4 linked regions of the Homo sapiens genome follow. The protein of the gene in region 1 purifies or fractionates together with the protein of each later gene. This does not show direct contact. Each region holds a gene or a part of one and is shown in the gene's direction. Other genes may lie near its edges.

Evidence for each region.
Region 2: the proteins of FLACC1 (region 1) and FTO purify together in Homo sapiens (affinity purification with mass spectrometry; one large-scale study listed by BioGRID and IntAct). This does not show direct contact.
Region 3: the proteins of FLACC1 (region 1) and RP2 purify together in Homo sapiens (affinity purification with mass spectrometry; one large-scale study listed by BioGRID and IntAct). This does not show direct contact.
Region 4: the proteins of FLACC1 (region 1) and SNX3 purify together in Homo sapiens (affinity purification with mass spectrometry; one large-scale study listed by BioGRID and IntAct). This does not show direct contact.

The regions. Positions count from the first base shown.
Region 1 is NC_000002.12:201,287,595-201,291,834, reverse strand, and holds the end of FLACC1 (flagellum-associated coiled-coil domain-containing protein 1), read left to right. Parts: intron 1-1,975; coding exon of another isoform or gene 1,976-2,049; coding exon 2,050-2,139; intron 2,140-2,268; coding exon 2,269-2,378; coding exon of another isoform or gene 2,379-2,394; exon of another isoform or gene 2,395-2,438; intron 2,439-3,053; coding exon 3,054-3,180; 3' UTR 3,181-3,564; downstream 3,565-4,240.
Region 2 is NC_000016.10:53,822,656-53,826,820, forward strand, and holds part of FTO (alpha-ketoglutarate-dependent dioxygenase FTO), read left to right. Parts: intron 1-3,208; coding exon 3,209-3,836; coding exon of another isoform or gene 3,837-3,866; intron 3,867-4,165.
Region 3 is NC_000023.11:46,878,087-46,882,251, forward strand, and holds part of RP2 (protein XRP2), read left to right. Parts: intron 1-1,599; coding exon 1,600-1,683; 3' UTR 1,684-4,165. UniProt on the Homo sapiens protein: Acts as a GTPase-activating protein (GAP) involved in trafficking between the Golgi and the ciliary membrane.
Region 4 is NC_000006.12:108,219,276-108,223,440, reverse strand, and holds part of SNX3 (sorting nexin-3), read left to right. Parts: intron 1-395; coding exon 396-491; intron 492-4,165. UniProt on the Homo sapiens protein: Phosphoinositide-binding protein required for multivesicular body formation. Specifically binds phosphatidylinositol 3-phosphate (PtdIns(P3)).

The DNA.
Region 1 (4,240 bases):
TCCTTTAAGGACTTCTCTGCATTGGTTATTCTAGTTAGCCATTCGTCTAATCTTTTTTCAAGGTTTTTAACTTCTTGGCCATGAGTTCGAACTTTCTCCTTTAGCTCGGAGTAGTTTGATCATCTGAAGCCTTCTTCTCTCAACTCGTCAAAGTCATTCTCCATCCAGCTTTGTTCTGTTGCTGGCGAGGAGCTGCATTCCTTTGGAGGAGGAGAGGCACTCTGATTTTTAGAATTTTCAGTTTTTCTGCTCTGTTTTTTCCCCATCTTTGTGGTTTTATCTACCTTTGGTCTTTGATGACAGTGACGTACAGATGGGGTTTTGGTGTGGATATCCTTTCTGTTTGTTAGTTTTCCTTCTAACAGTCAGGACCCTCAGCTGCAGGTCTGTTGGAGTTTGCTGGAGGTCCACTCTAGACCCTGTTTGCCTGGGTATCAGCAGCGGAGGCTGCAGAACAGCAGATATTGGTGAACAGCAAATGTTGCTGTCTGATTGTTCCTCTGAAAGTTTTGTCTCAGAGGAGTACCCAGCCGTGTGATGTGTCAGTCTGCCCCTACTGGGGGGTGCCTCCCAGTTAGGCTACTCAGGGGTCAGGGACCCACTTGAGGAGGCAGTCTGTCCATTCTCAGATCTCAAGCTGCGTGCTGGGAGAACCATTACTCTCTTCAAGCTGTCAGACAGGGACATTTAAGTCTGCAGAGGTTTCTGCTGCCTTTTGTTTGGTTATGCCTGCCCCCAGAGGTGGAGTCTACAGAGGCAGGCAGGCCTCCTTGAGCTGCGGTGGGCTCCACCCAGTTCGAGCTTCCTGGCCACTTTGTTTACCTACTCAATCCTCAGCAATGGTGGGCGCCCCTCCACCAGCCTCACTGCCACCTCGCAGTTTGATCTCAGACTGCTGTGCTAGCAATGAGCAAGGCTCCGTGGGCGTAGGACCTTATGAGCCAGGCATGGGATACAATCTTCTGGTGTGCCGTTTGCTAAGACTGTTGGAAAATGCAGTATTAGGGTGGGAGTGACCTGATTTTCCAGGTGCCATCTGTCACCCCTTTCCTTGGCTAGGAAAGGGAATTCCCTGACCCCTTGCACTTCCCGGATGATGTGATGCCTCGCCCTGCTTCGGCTCATGCTCAGTGCACTGCACCCACTGTACTGCACCCACTGTCTGACAATCCCCAGTGAGATGAACACGATACCTCAGTTGGAAATGCAGAAATCATACGTCTTCTGCATCGCTCACGCTGGGAGCTGTAGACTGGAGCTGTTCCTATTCGGCTGTCTTGGCTCCACCCCTGAGCATTTTGCATTCTAAGGACCTTTGCACAGGCTTCTATTCATTCTTTAGTGGAAGTTTGTGTGTTTGTTTCAAGAAGCTACTTTTTAGAGCAGTTTTAGGTTTACAGAAAAATTGAGCAGAAAGTACAGAGAGTTCCCATATACTACCCCACCCCACCCTACCCCACCACTAGTTTCCTTTATTATTAGTATCTTGCATTGGGATGGCACATTAGTTGCAATTGATGAGCCAATGTGGATGCATTCTTATTAACTAAAGTCCATAGTTTACATGAGGGTTCTCTCTTTGTGTTGTACATTCTGTGGGTTTTGCCTAATATGTCATGTCATGTATCCACCATTATAGTGTCATACAGAATAGTTTCACTGCTCTAAAAGTGCCCTCTATCCCACCTATTCATCCCTCCCTTCCCCTCCAAATCCCTAGAAACCACTAATCTTTTTTCTCTCTCTATAGTTTTGCCTTTTCCAGAGTGTCATATAATTGGAATCGGTAGTAGGTATTTAATAAAGACTTGCTTAGTGAATGAATAACTGATTGCCATTAGAACCATTCATATGAGCTCTGGTGAGGCTGAAGAGAAGGATATAGATGGGTGAGACAGAGAGGAGGCAGGACTGACAGGGTGTGAGTGGCCATGAGTGATGCAAAAGTAGCTCAGGTTGCTCCCTTTCATCATAGTCCAGGTGCCCTGGAGAAGAGACCAAATAAATAGACATTGGCATGATGTCCTGCAACAGCTTCTTCTTATGCAGGTCATGCAGGAAGAATTGCATGCACAAGCCCTTATCCTAGAGTCACTGAACACAAACCTCTACTATACCCAGTTGGAACTCCAGAAAGAGGTGAGTCCCTACTGGAGTGGGGATGGGGGTTGGGGGAAGAACCCAGGTCTCCATCCAGCTCTGCCATATAGCTCTGCCCTGGATGGCTCTGGGTTGGGGAAGATGGCTATTAAAATGTATGTCTTTCAGAAAGCTATAGTGGGAAATCTGGAGAAAATGCTTCAAACCAAGTTTGCTGAAACTGAAGAAAAGTATAAGCACACCATACAGATCCTGACGGAAGAGAACATTCATCTGAAGTGCGGCTGCTGCTGAAAAAGACATAGCTGAGTTCTCTTTAGGAGTGGGAAGGAGTTTGAGTGAGGAATGGGTTAGGAAGATAGACCAACTGCTCCCTAGTTATGTCAAGGCACAGGTGTTTTCGGGAGGGAGGTATGTCACTCTAGGCCAGTGACACAAAGCCAGATAGTTCACTTGAGGTGGAGTGGAGATGTGTCTATACTTCTCCCATTCACCTGTGTCCTTGTTTCTATGCAAAACAACACAGGACATTTGTCTTCCAGTTTCTGAGTTTGCTCAGTTCTATGACTGAGGGTGGTTTTTAAATCCATCTCCCCTGGGAGTCTGATGGTCTTGCCATTACATGCAGCTGCTTCTGGTTCCTATGGAAATCACCTTTGGATCAGAAGGTGTACTGTTACCTGAAGCTGCATCTTAAATCATTAAAATAAATTTTGGTCAATACTTTAATAGAAGAAAGTTATTTATTGCATTGATTTAGTAGAAAATTCCTCGTATAGGACTTTAGTCACCTGAACACCATACCTCACTAAATTCAAAACCACTGCAAGTAATGAGTGAGAGACTGCTGTGGTGAAGGAACGAAGGCACATTTCTCTCCCTGCACTCCAAATATCCTATACCCTTTCTAGCTTTTGAGTTGACATTGATACATCTTTCCTTTCTTTTTACAGGCAAAAGATAATTTCTAAGAATGAAGAAATTTGTGAAGGATGTTCTGGGAGATTGGCCTCTATTACTGTTTCTAAGGATGATTCTGACACTGTGCAAGATGGTAGCAAGAAAGGACAAGAATCATAAACAAAAAGTTGCTCTGCATTGTTGAAGATGGTTGGCACACCATTTCTGTAGGCCCAGGAAACTCCTGGGAGGGTTTTCTTGAGAAAATGCATATAATGAGTTTAGTTCTTGGGTTGCTCTGACTCTCTGAATGTCTGAAAATGTTTGAATTCGCATCTGAATTTCACAGCTTATCACGGACTCTTCACTGAAAAATGATGCTCTCCATACTGGGAGCTGAGCTTTCTCTGAGTTTTGTACTATTTTTCTTCTACCTTGACGTATTTCGTTAGAAAGAAACTGATTTGAAGGCCTTCTTCATATTGAACTTTTACTATATTTGGGAGGTGTACCTTTGTCCCCTGGGGCATTTAGGTAGCAAAAAAAGATGATGTGTTGATTTTACTCTAAAATATTTTTCTCTCACACCCATGCCCCCTACTTCCCTACCTCTCAATCATGTTCCCTAACCTATGACTTAGGAAGGGTTTCTGATGATTCTTACCACCTCCTCTGGACCATCACCAGAATTCAGACACCCACAGTGCAGGCAACATAAATAAGTGAAGTGGGCTAGACATAAGGAAAACAATTGCCCAAGCACAGTGATAAGTGGCAACCAACAGCAGCCTCAGTAGAGGGGCTTGGGCAGGGCTGGGGCACAGCGGATGGGGAAGAGTGACCCACAGAGCACTGTCCCATCTGAAGAAGGTGCTTCTCAGACCTTTGCCATGCAAAAGCATGAGGTCAATATTGTCAGATAGTATGATTTTTTAAAAGAAGTTATTCTGGTTTTTATGTGATATCTCCTAATTTTTAAACATTGACAACAAATTTTAAAAATACAACTGTGTGTGCCGATCATGGGAGACTCAAGTAGAACATGTCTGTAGTCCAGATGTTTTCCACCTGTGAGATGTCATTGGCAGAAACCAAAACCAAACACAAAAAATCTCCAAGGAGCAATAAGATCAAATTATATTTTATTCTATTAAAAAATGTTTTTGAAAAAAGATACTTAAATTTTAAAGATAACTTAATTCCTAATGATTTAAAATAATCCAAGCAGAGATGAAAGAGC
Region 2 (4,165 bases), on another chromosome or scaffold:
ATAATAATATTCATATTAAACCTATTTGTGTGTATATGTGTGTGTGTATATATATATATGCATACATATTTTAATAATGCTTGAGTTCTTTCATTTTATATTAAAAATAAAGCAGTTCTACCTCTCCCCTGTGCCCCACCACTCTTCCAGATGGCCTTACAAAGCCTTGCATACCTGACTTGGGGGCTACTGCTCTAGACACTCAAGGTCTCGACTTCTTTGGTTATTCACTCTCTCTGCATCGTCAGCCTCTTTCTCTTGTATCATTCTCATGAGTGTACTGAGAAACTCTGGTGTTCTCTAGCGTCTTCCATCATTAGAGATTGTCCCTTAGTCTAGCCTTCTTCTTTATCAAAAGCTCCATTTTTCTACTCCCCTTCATAGCAGAACCATTCAGAGACATCTCTACATGCCATCTCACTTCCTCCTCTTTCATTCCATCTTCGCCTACTCCAATCTGACTTTCACCCCCAGCACTCTACTGAGATTGCTCGTGTCATTGCCATCAGTGATTTTCATGCTGCCAAATCTACTGGATCATCTGTCTTCATCTCACTTGGCCTCTCAGTGTCAGGTGACATAGTTGAGTACCCCGCCCTTCTAGAAATGCTCTCCTCTTTTAGCTTCTGCAATAATACACTCTGCTGGTTCTCCTTTGTTGAGGCTTCTGCTGCGACTCAGGAAATAGCTTTGGTCTCCTTTTGATATTTGTACTGTTTCCCTAGGTGATCTCATTCATTTCTAGGCCTTTAAAACCAAGCTGTGTGCTGATCACTCCCACATTGCGTTCCTCTGCCCTGCTTTCTCTTCTGAGCTCCAGATGTGTACATCCAATTCCCCTCCCCCCGCCCACCATATTTTCACCTGGAGGTTTCATAGGTATCTTCAAGGCTGCAGCTCTACAGTGAACTCTTCATTTCCCCCTTTTCTTCTTTCTACTATTTCTCTTTTGCCTCAGTTTTCCTTATTTCACAGAATAGTAAATTGTTTATTTAGTTGTTAAATCCAGAAATCTGGAATGTATTCTTAACTTCTATCCTGAGCAACAGGGAGAAACCCCGTCTCTACTAAAAATACAAAATTAGCCAGGTGTGGTGGCGCATGCCTGTAATCTCAGCTACTCGGGCGGCTGAGGCAGGAGAATCACTTGAACCCAGGAGTGGAGGTTGCAGTGAGCCAAGATCATGCCATTGCACTCTAGCCTGGGCAACAAGAGCGAAACGCCATCTCAAAAAAACCCAAAAAACCCCAAAAGACTTATATCTTTTTTTATCCCTTACATCTAATTCATAAGCACATCCTTTAGTTCTACCTACAACGTATGTATTTCATCTGTCCACTTATCTTTGTCTCTATTTTAGTCCAGACCATCACTTTTCTTCCAGATGATTGTAATAGCACATTCCACGCTCACATGTGCCTCTTTCCAATCTGTGCCTGATATTATAACTAAGAGCGATTGTATAAGATGTAAATCAAGTTATTTTTCTCCCTTCTACATCCTCCAGTGCATCTAGAGTTAGCTTCAGATTCCTTACCACGACCTCTAGGGCTATGTGTGATCTGGCCTCCGCCTTCCTCTGCCTCCTCGTAGCATGCCACTCTGTCTTTGGCTCTTGTGCTCTAGTAAAACAAGCCTTTTTTTGTCCCTAGAATAGGTTGGTCTTTTTCCTGAGTGCCTTTGGCTTCTCTGGTCTGTCTTTCTGGGAAGCACTTTCTCTGGCTTGTCATATTTCTGGTGCCTTCTTTTCCTGAAGATCTCAGCTTAAATCCCGTCTCCTTAGAGAATTCTTCCTGTTCTAATAAGATTTCCTGCTGGTTTGTTTCTGTCTTAGTACTTAACACAATTTGGGGTTGCTTTTCTTTATTTATTTACTTGATTTGGTAGAAAGCTTTGTGAGAACAGGGACCTTGTTTCCATCTGGTGGTAGGTGCTCAATAAACAGATGCTGCATGAAAAAAAAAACGTTTGGAAGAATACTGGTCTTGCCCTGCCTATCATGTGAATGGTAATTACTAAATGAAGACAGAGAAGGAAGGTATCTTAACAATGGTGGGCAACACAATACAGGGAGGACAGGTTAATGTGTTGATCATGTCTGACTCTTTCTTTAAGACAGCCTAAAACTAGGGAGGAACAAATCAGATCAAACGTTACAGAGGTAAATGTAAAATCCTGTGATTTGGTTACAAATAAATCAGTTGCATTTTACAGAATCAGGAAACTCCAGTCTGACACCGATTCACATGCCAAGTCCTAAGGAAAGTGGTAGCCGAAAAGCTAATGCAGCCCTAACCTACATTAATCATTCCATGTATTTCTGTATTAGGGAAGGGAATTGACCAATATTACTCTCCTCCAGTGACACCAGTAGAATTATTAGAATTTTGTAGAATTACAATGTAATAATACCTCATTCATCCATGCACAAATCCATTTATTCATTCCTTTACCATTTACTGAGTAAATTCTGGGCACTCATATTATAGTCATGAGCAAAATTGCCATGGCTTTTGTGTTCATGGAACTTAATGTCTAACTCCTGAAGAGAAGTGAGTTCTCTTTTTGTGAAAGTGTTAAGCAGAAACCAGTTTGTCATTTATTGAGACAATGCATTCTCATGGTTAAGAACTCGTGCCCTGGAAGCCAGGGGTTGGTGTCCAGGGGCTTTAAATTCCAGCTCCAGTATTTGCCAGCTGTGTGACTTTGGGCAAATTAATGTCTTTGGTCAGATTAATGTCTCTGTGTTTCAGTGGTCTCATCTATAAACTGGAGATAATAATACTATGCCTAGAGTTAAAATGAGCTAATGCACACAAGTAACTTACAACAGTACCTGGTACGTAGTAAGCACTTAATAAATATTTTAGATAATAAGCAGTTAATAAAATGGTGTTGAGATTTAGGGTGAGAAAAAGTGGTCACAGAATAATCCTGGTGTATCAGGACACACATTATTATTTTTTGTTTTTTATTAAAGATTGTTAGTAATTTGAGCTTGAACTTGAAAATCTTGACTTTAGAGTTTGATGACATTTGTTTTATTTGGTTTTCTGTTTTGGGCTAGGAAGATGTGACTCCTATTTAGAAATAGCCACCAGGTAGTCCCCCCACAACTCCCCAAATGCTTACAAAGAAACACACCTTTGGAAATAATACAATTGTAGCTATATATCAACGTCTGTTTTTGCTTTGGTTTTGTTTTAGTGGCAGCTGAAATATCCTAAACTAATTCTCCGAGAAGCCAGCAGTGTATCTGAGGAGCTCCATAAAGAGGTTCAAGAAGCCTTTCTCACACTGCACAAGCATGGCTGCTTATTTCGGGACCTGGTTAGGATCCAAGGCAAAGATCTGCTCACTCCGGTATCTCGCATCCTCATTGGTAATCCAGGCTGCACCTACAAGTACCTGAACACCAGGCTCTTTACGGTCCCCTGGCCAGTGAAAGGGTCTAATATAAAACACACCGAGGCTGAAATAGCCGCTGCTTGTGAGACCTTCCTCAAGCTCAATGACTACCTGCAGATAGAAACCATCCAGGCTTTGGAAGAACTTGCTGCCAAAGAGAAGGCTAATGAGGATGCTGTGCCATTGTGTATGTCTGCAGATTTCCCCAGGGTTGGGATGGGTTCATCCTACAACGGACAAGATGAAGTGGACATTAAGAGCAGAGCAGCATACAACGTAACTTTGCTGAATTTCATGGATCCTCAGAAAATGCCATACCTGAAAGAGGAACCTTATTTTGGCATGGGGAAAATGGCAGTGAGCTGGCATCATGATGAAAATCTGGTGGACAGGTCAGCGGTGGCAGTGTACAGTTATAGCTGTGAAGGTACAGTCTGCTCTTGGAAAAAGCAGCCCTGTATGTAATAATATGACCCGAGTTGTTTAGGCTCTGGAGATACACACGCATATACATGAACATGTTTGCATGTGTGCTTGCGTGTGTACATGCACATGCGTGTGTGTGTATCATGTGTCCTTTTTAGTCTTGTCACACCTGTATGTCTGCAGAATATGCCTCTTTCTCATCTGGCCATGCTAGCTGGCTCATTGTTATACTGTACTCAGAATATTTTCGCACGTAAGCACTGCTGTCATTTGTCTCTCTTGTGCCCAGGAGAGCAGCCTCTTGGTTTCATACAGCCGACTGTCTTCTCT
Region 3 (4,165 bases), on another chromosome or scaffold:
CATGTAGGCCGGGCGCGGTGGCTCACGCCTGTAATCCCAGCACTTTGGGAGGCCGAGGTGGGCGGATCACGAGGTCAGGAGATCGAGACCATCCCGGCTAAAACGGTGAAACCCCGTCTCTACTAAAAATACAAAAAAAAATTAGCCGGGCGTAGTGGCGGGCGCCTGTAGTCCCAGCTGCTTGGGAGGCTGAGGCAGGAGAATGGCGTGAACCCGGGAGGCGGAGCTTGCAGTGAGCCGAGATCCCGCCACTGCACTCCAGCCTGGGCGACAGAGCGAGACTCTGTCTCAAAAAAAAAAAAAAAAGAAATCATCACATGTAGGCATTTTCTAAATATATTGATGAAGTTGCTGTATCTAAGAATTGCAGACATAAATAAATTTAAAACCAAACATAGAGGATTACATTAGCAAATCTATAATTGACTACTTTTTGATAAATACCTGGGAGGACATTTTGGTTTTATCATCTGATTTGGCTTATGATTCCTTGAATTTACAAAAATTAAAGTACTTTGTCTTTGATCTCATTTTATCATCACAGTAGTACTAAGGGAGAGGGAAAATACCAGGTTGAATAGAAAAGGAAACTGAGAGATAAAATGGTTAGAATTTGGACTTTTAGAGCTGAATGATTTAGAGATTATCTAATCCAGCTTTCTCATTTTACAGGTGTAGTTACTGAGCCCACAGAGGTTTATTAAATTGTCAGCATCATATGCTAGTTTACGATAAAGCTAGAATAGAACCCACATCTGCTCTAATTCCTTGCTGACATTTGTAAAAGCTACTTTAGAAGGGTTCTATTGAGTATTGCTTCATTGATGTTTAGCAGATAGTTTATTTAAAAATAACAGGCTGGGTGTGGTGGCTCACACCTGTAATCCCAGCACTTTGGGAGGCTGAAGCGGGAAGACTGCTTGAGCCCAGGAGTTCAAGACCAGTCTGGGCAACATAGTGAGACTCTACAAAAAGTAAAAAAAAAAAAAAAAAAAAAAAAAAAACTAGCTAGGCATGGTGGTACACACCATTAGTACCAGCTACTTGGGGGGCTGAGGCAGGAGAATCACTTGAGTCCAGAAGTCTAGGCTGCAGTGAGCCATGATTGCACCACTGCACTCCAGCCTGGGCAACAGAGCAAGACTCTGTCTCAAAAATAAATAAAATAAAATAAAAAATAATAATATATCTTTAGCAGCTTTGAAAGGGATAATCTCAAGTTTTGCTGCTCAGACTACTGAGATTATTATTAGAAAATAGAAGAAACAAAGAGTTTTTTAAGTGACTCTTATTCAGTAGCTTCCGTAATATTGAGTGTTGTAAAAGTCCAGATGTAATAAAATACAACTCAAGTATTATGAAAGCAGAGACCTTAATTATATAAGTGCTTCCAAAAGAGCTTAATTTACATTATAGCTATTCAAAGTGTATTACATGAATTCTAAAGAAAATCTACAGATTAAATATTGTCATTATAAATGATGTACTTGAACTTCTTTTGAATAATTAGCTTGGAACTTTGTTCTGTGGAGAACATGGGCTTTGGCATTCTGAAGTACTTGGTACTGATTTTTTTTTTTAATTTTCTATTTAAAATAGATGTTTGTATCTGAAAGCAAGGAGACGGCATCTGGAGATGTAGACAGCTTCTACAACTTTGCTGATATACAGATGGGAATATGAAGTGCAATGTGGAACCAGGACTTGGTATTAAGCCTTTCCCAACTTGTGAATATAGAATTTGATAATACACTTTTGTGTATTAGCAATGGTTTTTACTAATGCTAAAACTTTTAAAGTTTATTTTTTAATAAATTGTTGAGTATTACATCATTTACTTGAGGTTCAAAAATAATTCATTTTAAATTAAGTAGTTTTAATCAGCTTAAAAGCTATTTAACCCATTTTAATAAGCTTGCAGTTTTGTTTCTCTGCATATGATATTCTTATTAGAAAACAGAAGTAGCTAAAAGTTTATTATTTTAATCCTATTTAAATGTTCTTTCAAATCTCTAATAATTTAAACTTTCCTCAGTGCTCCATGATACTTTTTTTGAGACTCCATATCATTGCTTATTTTACCTTTTTCAATTTAGAGGGATTTGTTACTAGTCGATCAATTAGAATGAACCTATGCACATTTTTATGTACACATATCCAGTTATATAATTGCTTCCTAGTTGCATTATATGGCAAATGAGATTTTGTACATGGAGTTGACATAATACTTTGTAAATTGAATTTTTTAAAGAAATAGGCATTTGATAACCAGCTTGGCAAGTAACTCTACTAACAGATGTTGGTATAGCTATTTAAAGACTACTTCGTAAGTAGTATGATTATTTGAATAAATTACACATTGTTTAGTTTTTTAATACAACTGCTATATGACTCTTCTGCTTCCTGATAAGAAAAGGTATATGCAATGCTAAAACTGTAGAAGCCCAATCACCAGCAGTTTTTAAAAAGGTGATAACTTTTATTAGCTCTTGTGGGCTATCAAGAGAATTGGAACAAAACCTTGTGACTTTTAGGTAAGAAATAGGCATGATGATAAGCTATGCAGATTATTAAAAAGCTTGATACATTTGATTTTTCATTAGATATGCCATTCATATCAAGTAATGTTCAAGTATGATAAAATTATTTTGGTTGCTTTAAAGCACTGTTTCCCAAATCTACCTGATCATAATAATTTACCAGGAAGCAGAGGAGAGCTACTTGTTTAAAAATCCACATTCTTGGACCCAATCCTCAGATGCACGGATTCAGTCTTCAGGGGAAACTCTGTTTTAAGGGGTATGTTGTAATCTAAAGTAATTGGTTCAGGAGGTGTCAATAGGTTGAACTTGTGAGAAGGCACTGAATCTGCCATCCACATCACATATAGCAGCTATTATGAAATCAGCTTTCATAGGCCTATTTTTAAAAGGAATCTGAAATTTAATTCTATTTTGATAAAACTAAGACTGAAAATAACCACTTGTAAACATTCCTATGATTGTTACTAAAATGTATTTTCATGTTTAAAATGTTTTTGGATATTTTTGGGTTAATAACTACTACATTGAATTGCATGTTAAGGTGCAGAAATAATACATTAAAAGATTTTCACTTTAAATTAATTAGTAATATTGAGCGCTCACCCTGTGCGTGGCCTTGTGCTAACCATTAGCACTGCATCATTTCAATTCTTTTATAAGGGCATTCAATACTACAAAATCAACATGATTTCATAAGGTGCAAATAAAAGTTGGTGACAGATTTAATATAATTTTGATCACAATTTACAAATGATCTTTGCAAATAGTGGTCAGACGGCATTAGTTTTTCCCTTAGTTAAGCTAAATTAAAGGGACTCCATCCTGTTATGATTATATTATTATTATTATTATTATTATTTTTGAGGTGGAGTTTCACTCTTGTTGCCCAAGCTGGAGTGCAATGGCGCGATCTCGGCTCACCACAACATCCGCCTCCTGGGTTCAAGCGATTCTCCTGCCTCAGCCTCCTGAGTAGCTGGGAATACAGGCATGCGCCACTACACCTGGCTAATTTTTGTATTTTTAGTTGAGATGGGGTTTTTCCACGTTGGTCAGGCTGGTCTCGAACTCCTGACCTCAGGTGATCCGTCCACCTCAGCCTCCCAAAGAGCTGGGATTACAGGTGTGAGCTACCGCGCCTGGCCATGATGATATTATTAAACACCATTATTCACATTTCAAATAATAACAATACTTTTTGTTTTTCAAAAATAAAATGCAATGTTATATAAAGCTATAAACTAAGTTCTTTATGATATTTGAGCAACAACTCAGGAATATAACATATAAGGGAGATGTTAATTTAAAAATTTCCACTACACTTATTATCTATTAACCAAAGCTTAAAATTTTGTATTCTTCTGTTAGATAAGACCTTTTACCCATTTAATTTGTCTTTAAGGACAGTCATTTGGCTTCTGAATGTTTGAAACGATTTTAAAAAATAAGTAGTGCTATGGTTGTTTCTATAATTCTAACCTTTGATAGTAATCAGAATGTATTACATTTCATTTCTGAATAGCTTTTGAATTTATGAAAAATTATTAACAATGAAAAATTGGTAATTTTATTAAGTTATATGTGTTTAAATATTATATTAGCTTATTTCTCTTGCATTAATA
Region 4 (4,165 bases), on another chromosome or scaffold:
TTCGGCCGGGTGCCGTGGCTCATGCCTGTAATCCCAGCACTTTGGGAGGCCGAGGCGGGCGGATCACCTGAGGTCAGGAGTTCAAGACCAGCCTGGGCAACATGGTAAAACCCCATCTCTACAAAAATACAAAAATTAGCTGGGCATGATGGTGGGTGCCTGTAATCCCAGCTACTTGGGAGGCTGAGGCGGAAAAATCATTTGAACCTGGGAGGTGGAGTTTGCAGTGAGCCGAGATCGTGCCATTGCACTCCAGCCTAGGCAACAAAGGGAGATTCTGTCTCAAAAAAAGAAAAAGAAAGTCATGATTTCTTTTGTTTTGCCATACCCGTCCCCCCATTTTTTTGAAGTTTCCTTAATGTGCTTCAATTTAGGACTAACTTTTTTTGTTTCAGACAAATCTTCCTATTTTCAAGCTGAAAGAATCTACTGTTAGAAGAAGATACAGTGACTTTGAATGGCTGCGAAGTGAATTAGAAAGAGAGAGCAAGGTAAGAATGATTTATGATGCAACTTTAAAGCAAAACATTCCAAGTTTTAATGTTTAATATTTCTCAGGAAAATGATATTGAATAAAATGGGTAAAAGCAAATATGATTTCTTTTTTTCAAATAGTTCAGTGTCATTTTATAGAGGTAGAGTCTGTGTAAATTTTCCTTAGAACTCTTTCTCTTGTCTGCTTTGGCCCAGTTGAGGTCTTTGCTGACTCACACTTCAATAACACTTCTTAGAACCTTGTTGCTATTACTTCCTTCCTTTCCCTCATCGTCCTATTCCATCTTCCCCTCTCCACACACTTAAGCCAAGTTTCTCTTCCTCAATACATTTTATAAATGTCAGTGTATTTCCAATTTTGTTTTAGTGACATATAAGTTTTTTTCATCACATATATGTTCATGTAACAGAAGTTTCATAAAGCAGTAATGACCTCACTCTGTGTGATATGTGCTGATATTCTTCAGATTAGCGTTTTTAAATGATGGCCATGATCCACTAATGGGTTGCTGCCGGCAATTTAAAAACACTGTTACATGCCTGATCTTCTCTTAGAATAGAATTTGGTAGCTTTGGCATCAAAATAAATTAAAGCAAGGTCTCACTCTGGTGTCTCTCATTTCAGCCCTGCCTCAGAATGACATCAGAGGCAAGGAGTCATGGAAGGACGTGGTGTGCTCAGAATGATGAAAAGTTATTTTGTGACTAGAAAGTAGGTAAAAAGGTGTGGGTATGGTAGGAGTCCTGAACTAGATGAAGGCTAGTCTGTACTCATTTCTCAAGTTTAATAAGGGTTTTCTTTTTTTTTCTGTTTCTAGCCTAAGATAAAAGTGGCTGCATATGAGCACAAAATATGCAGATCATAGCATTCCAACAAAAATGTAAAGAAGGCCGGGCATGGTGGCTCATGCCTATAATCTCGGTACTTTGGTAGGCCGAGTCAGGAGGATCTCTTGAGCCCAGCAGTTCAAGACCAGCCTGGGGAACATAGTGAGGCCCCATCTCTTCCAAAATTTTTAAATATGAATAAAACTAGAAATACAAAATCTGTGTTAAGAAAGCTCTCAAACTTTACCAAAAGACCAGACCTAAATAAAGAGGGGCCAGGTGCAGTGGCTTACGCCTGTAATCCCAGCACTTCAGGAGGCCAACGTGGGTGGATCACTTAAGCCAAGGAGTTCGAGACCAGCGTGGGCAACATGCGAAACCCCATCGCTACAAAAAATACAAAAATTAGCCAGGCATGGTGACATGCACCTGTAGTCCCAGCACTCAGGAGGCTGAGGCAAGAGGATCACTTTGAGTCCAGGAGGCAGAGGTTGCAGTGAGCTGTAGTCTTGCCCCTGCACTCCAGCATGGGCACCAGAGCCAGGCCCTGTCTCAAAAAAAAAAAAAAAAAAAAAAAAAAAAAAAGTGTAATACTGTATTCCTTGTAATACTGTATTCCTCGTTTGGAATGTTTACTGTTGAAGATTTTTTTATTTTATAAACATTTTAGCTCGTCCTTTGTGTTCTAGGAGTTACAGGTAGAGCTATGAACAAATTAAGGTCCCCTCTTTTATGGTGCTTATATCCTATTAGGTAAATTGCGGGGGAGGGGGTTGTTGAAGAGAAGGCAGGAAAAATATAGTAAAATATATAGATGTCAGATGATGAGAAGCTCTAAAAAAAAAAACAAAGCTAAACTAAGGGAAGTAGGAAGTGCCAGGGGAGCCACTCTCATATAGAGCACAAGGGAAGGCCTCACTCTAGGTGACATTAGCAGAGACCTGCATGAAGTAGAGCAGTATCTTCTAACTTATTTATAAATTCATAAGATTGTAGTAGAAATTTCAGTAGGGCTGTTTATAAAGTTGCAGATTTATTTATGAGCTTTAGAATCAGAAAAAGCTCAAGAATAACCAAAAAATATTTTCAGTATATAGTGGGCAGCAGGTTATTTGTTCTACCAGACATCAAAACATCTTTTTTTTTTTTGAGACTGAGCCTCACTCTGGAGTGCAGTGGCATCATGTCGGCTCACTGCAACCTCCATCTCCGGGGTTCAAGCAATTCTCCTGCCTCAGCCTCCCGAGTAGCTGGGATTACAGGCACCCACCACCACACTCGGCTAATTTTTTTTATATTTTTAGTAGAGATGGGGTTTCATCATGTTGGCCAGGCTGGTCTCGAACTCCTGACCTCAGGTGATCCGCCCTCCTCGGCCTCCCAAAGTGCTGGGATTACAGGTGTGAGCCACTGTGCCTGACCCAAAACATATCTTAAGGCTATAGTAATTCAAACAATGTGGTGTAGTCATATGGCACTTAATGATGAGAATACATTCTAAGAAATGCATCCTTAGGTGATTTCATTGTTTGTGCAAACATCATATGAGTATACTCACACAAACCCAGGTGGTGTAGCCTACTACACACCTAGGCTATATGGTACAGCCTATTACTCCTAGACTACAAGCCTATCCAACATGTTACTGTACTTAATACTACAGGCAGTTGTAACATAGTGGGAAGCATTTGTGCATCTAAACATATAAAAGATATGGTAAAAAATACAGCGTGGAAGACTTTTTTTTTTTTAAAGCATGGAAGATTTTTTAAATAGTACACCTGTATAGGGCACTTACCATAAATGGAGCTTGCAGGATTGAAAGTTGTTCTGGGTGAGTCAGTTAGTATGTGGCGAGTGAATGAGAAGACCTAGGACATTACTGTTTATTACTGCAGGCTTTATAAACACTGTACATTGAAATTTATAATTTATAAAATATTTTTCTTCAATAATAAATTAACCTTAGCTTACTTTTTAAACTTTTTACTTTAACTTTTTGACTCTTGTAATAACACTTAGCTTAAAACACAGACACATTGAACAAATGTACAAAAATATGTTCTTTATATTCTTATTCTATAAGCTTTTCTCTATTTAAATTTTTTTAACTTTTTCTTAAAAATTAAGTCACAAATATACATAGTAGCCTAGGCCTGCACAGAGTCAGGATCACCAAGACATCTCTAGGCAATAGGAATTTTTCACCTCCATTATAATCTTAAGGCACCACAGTTATTATCTTAAGTGGTCCATCTCTGATGGGAAACACTGTTATGCAGTGTATATTGCTTTAGGTTGGGCAAATAGATTAGTGGAATATAATAGAGTTTAGAGTTTGACCCATGTATTTATAGGGAATTTAGTTCATAACAAAAATAGCATTGTCATTCAGTGGGAAAGGAATTCAGCAAATGGAGTTGAAATATTTGTCTATTAGGAAATAAAGATTTATATCTCACTATATTACAAATTACAGATGGTTGGGAGATTGATTGATTGATTGATTGACAGAGCCTTGCTCTGTTGCCCAGGCTGAAATGCGGTGGCGTGATCATAGCATACTATAATATCCTCCAACTCCTGGTCTCAAGTGATTTTCCTGCCTCAGCCTCCCAAGTAGCTGGGACTACAGGCATGAGCCACCATGTCCAGCTAATTTTAAAAAATTTTTTGTAAGGATGAGGCTTCACTATGTTGCCCAGGCTGGTCTTGAATTCCTGGCCTCAAGTAATCCTCCTGCCTTGGCCTCCCAAAGTGCTGGGATTACAGGCATGAGCCACCACACCTAGCTGAGAAGTGTCTTGATACATAGGCTTTGGGCTTTGCTTGACATACCATG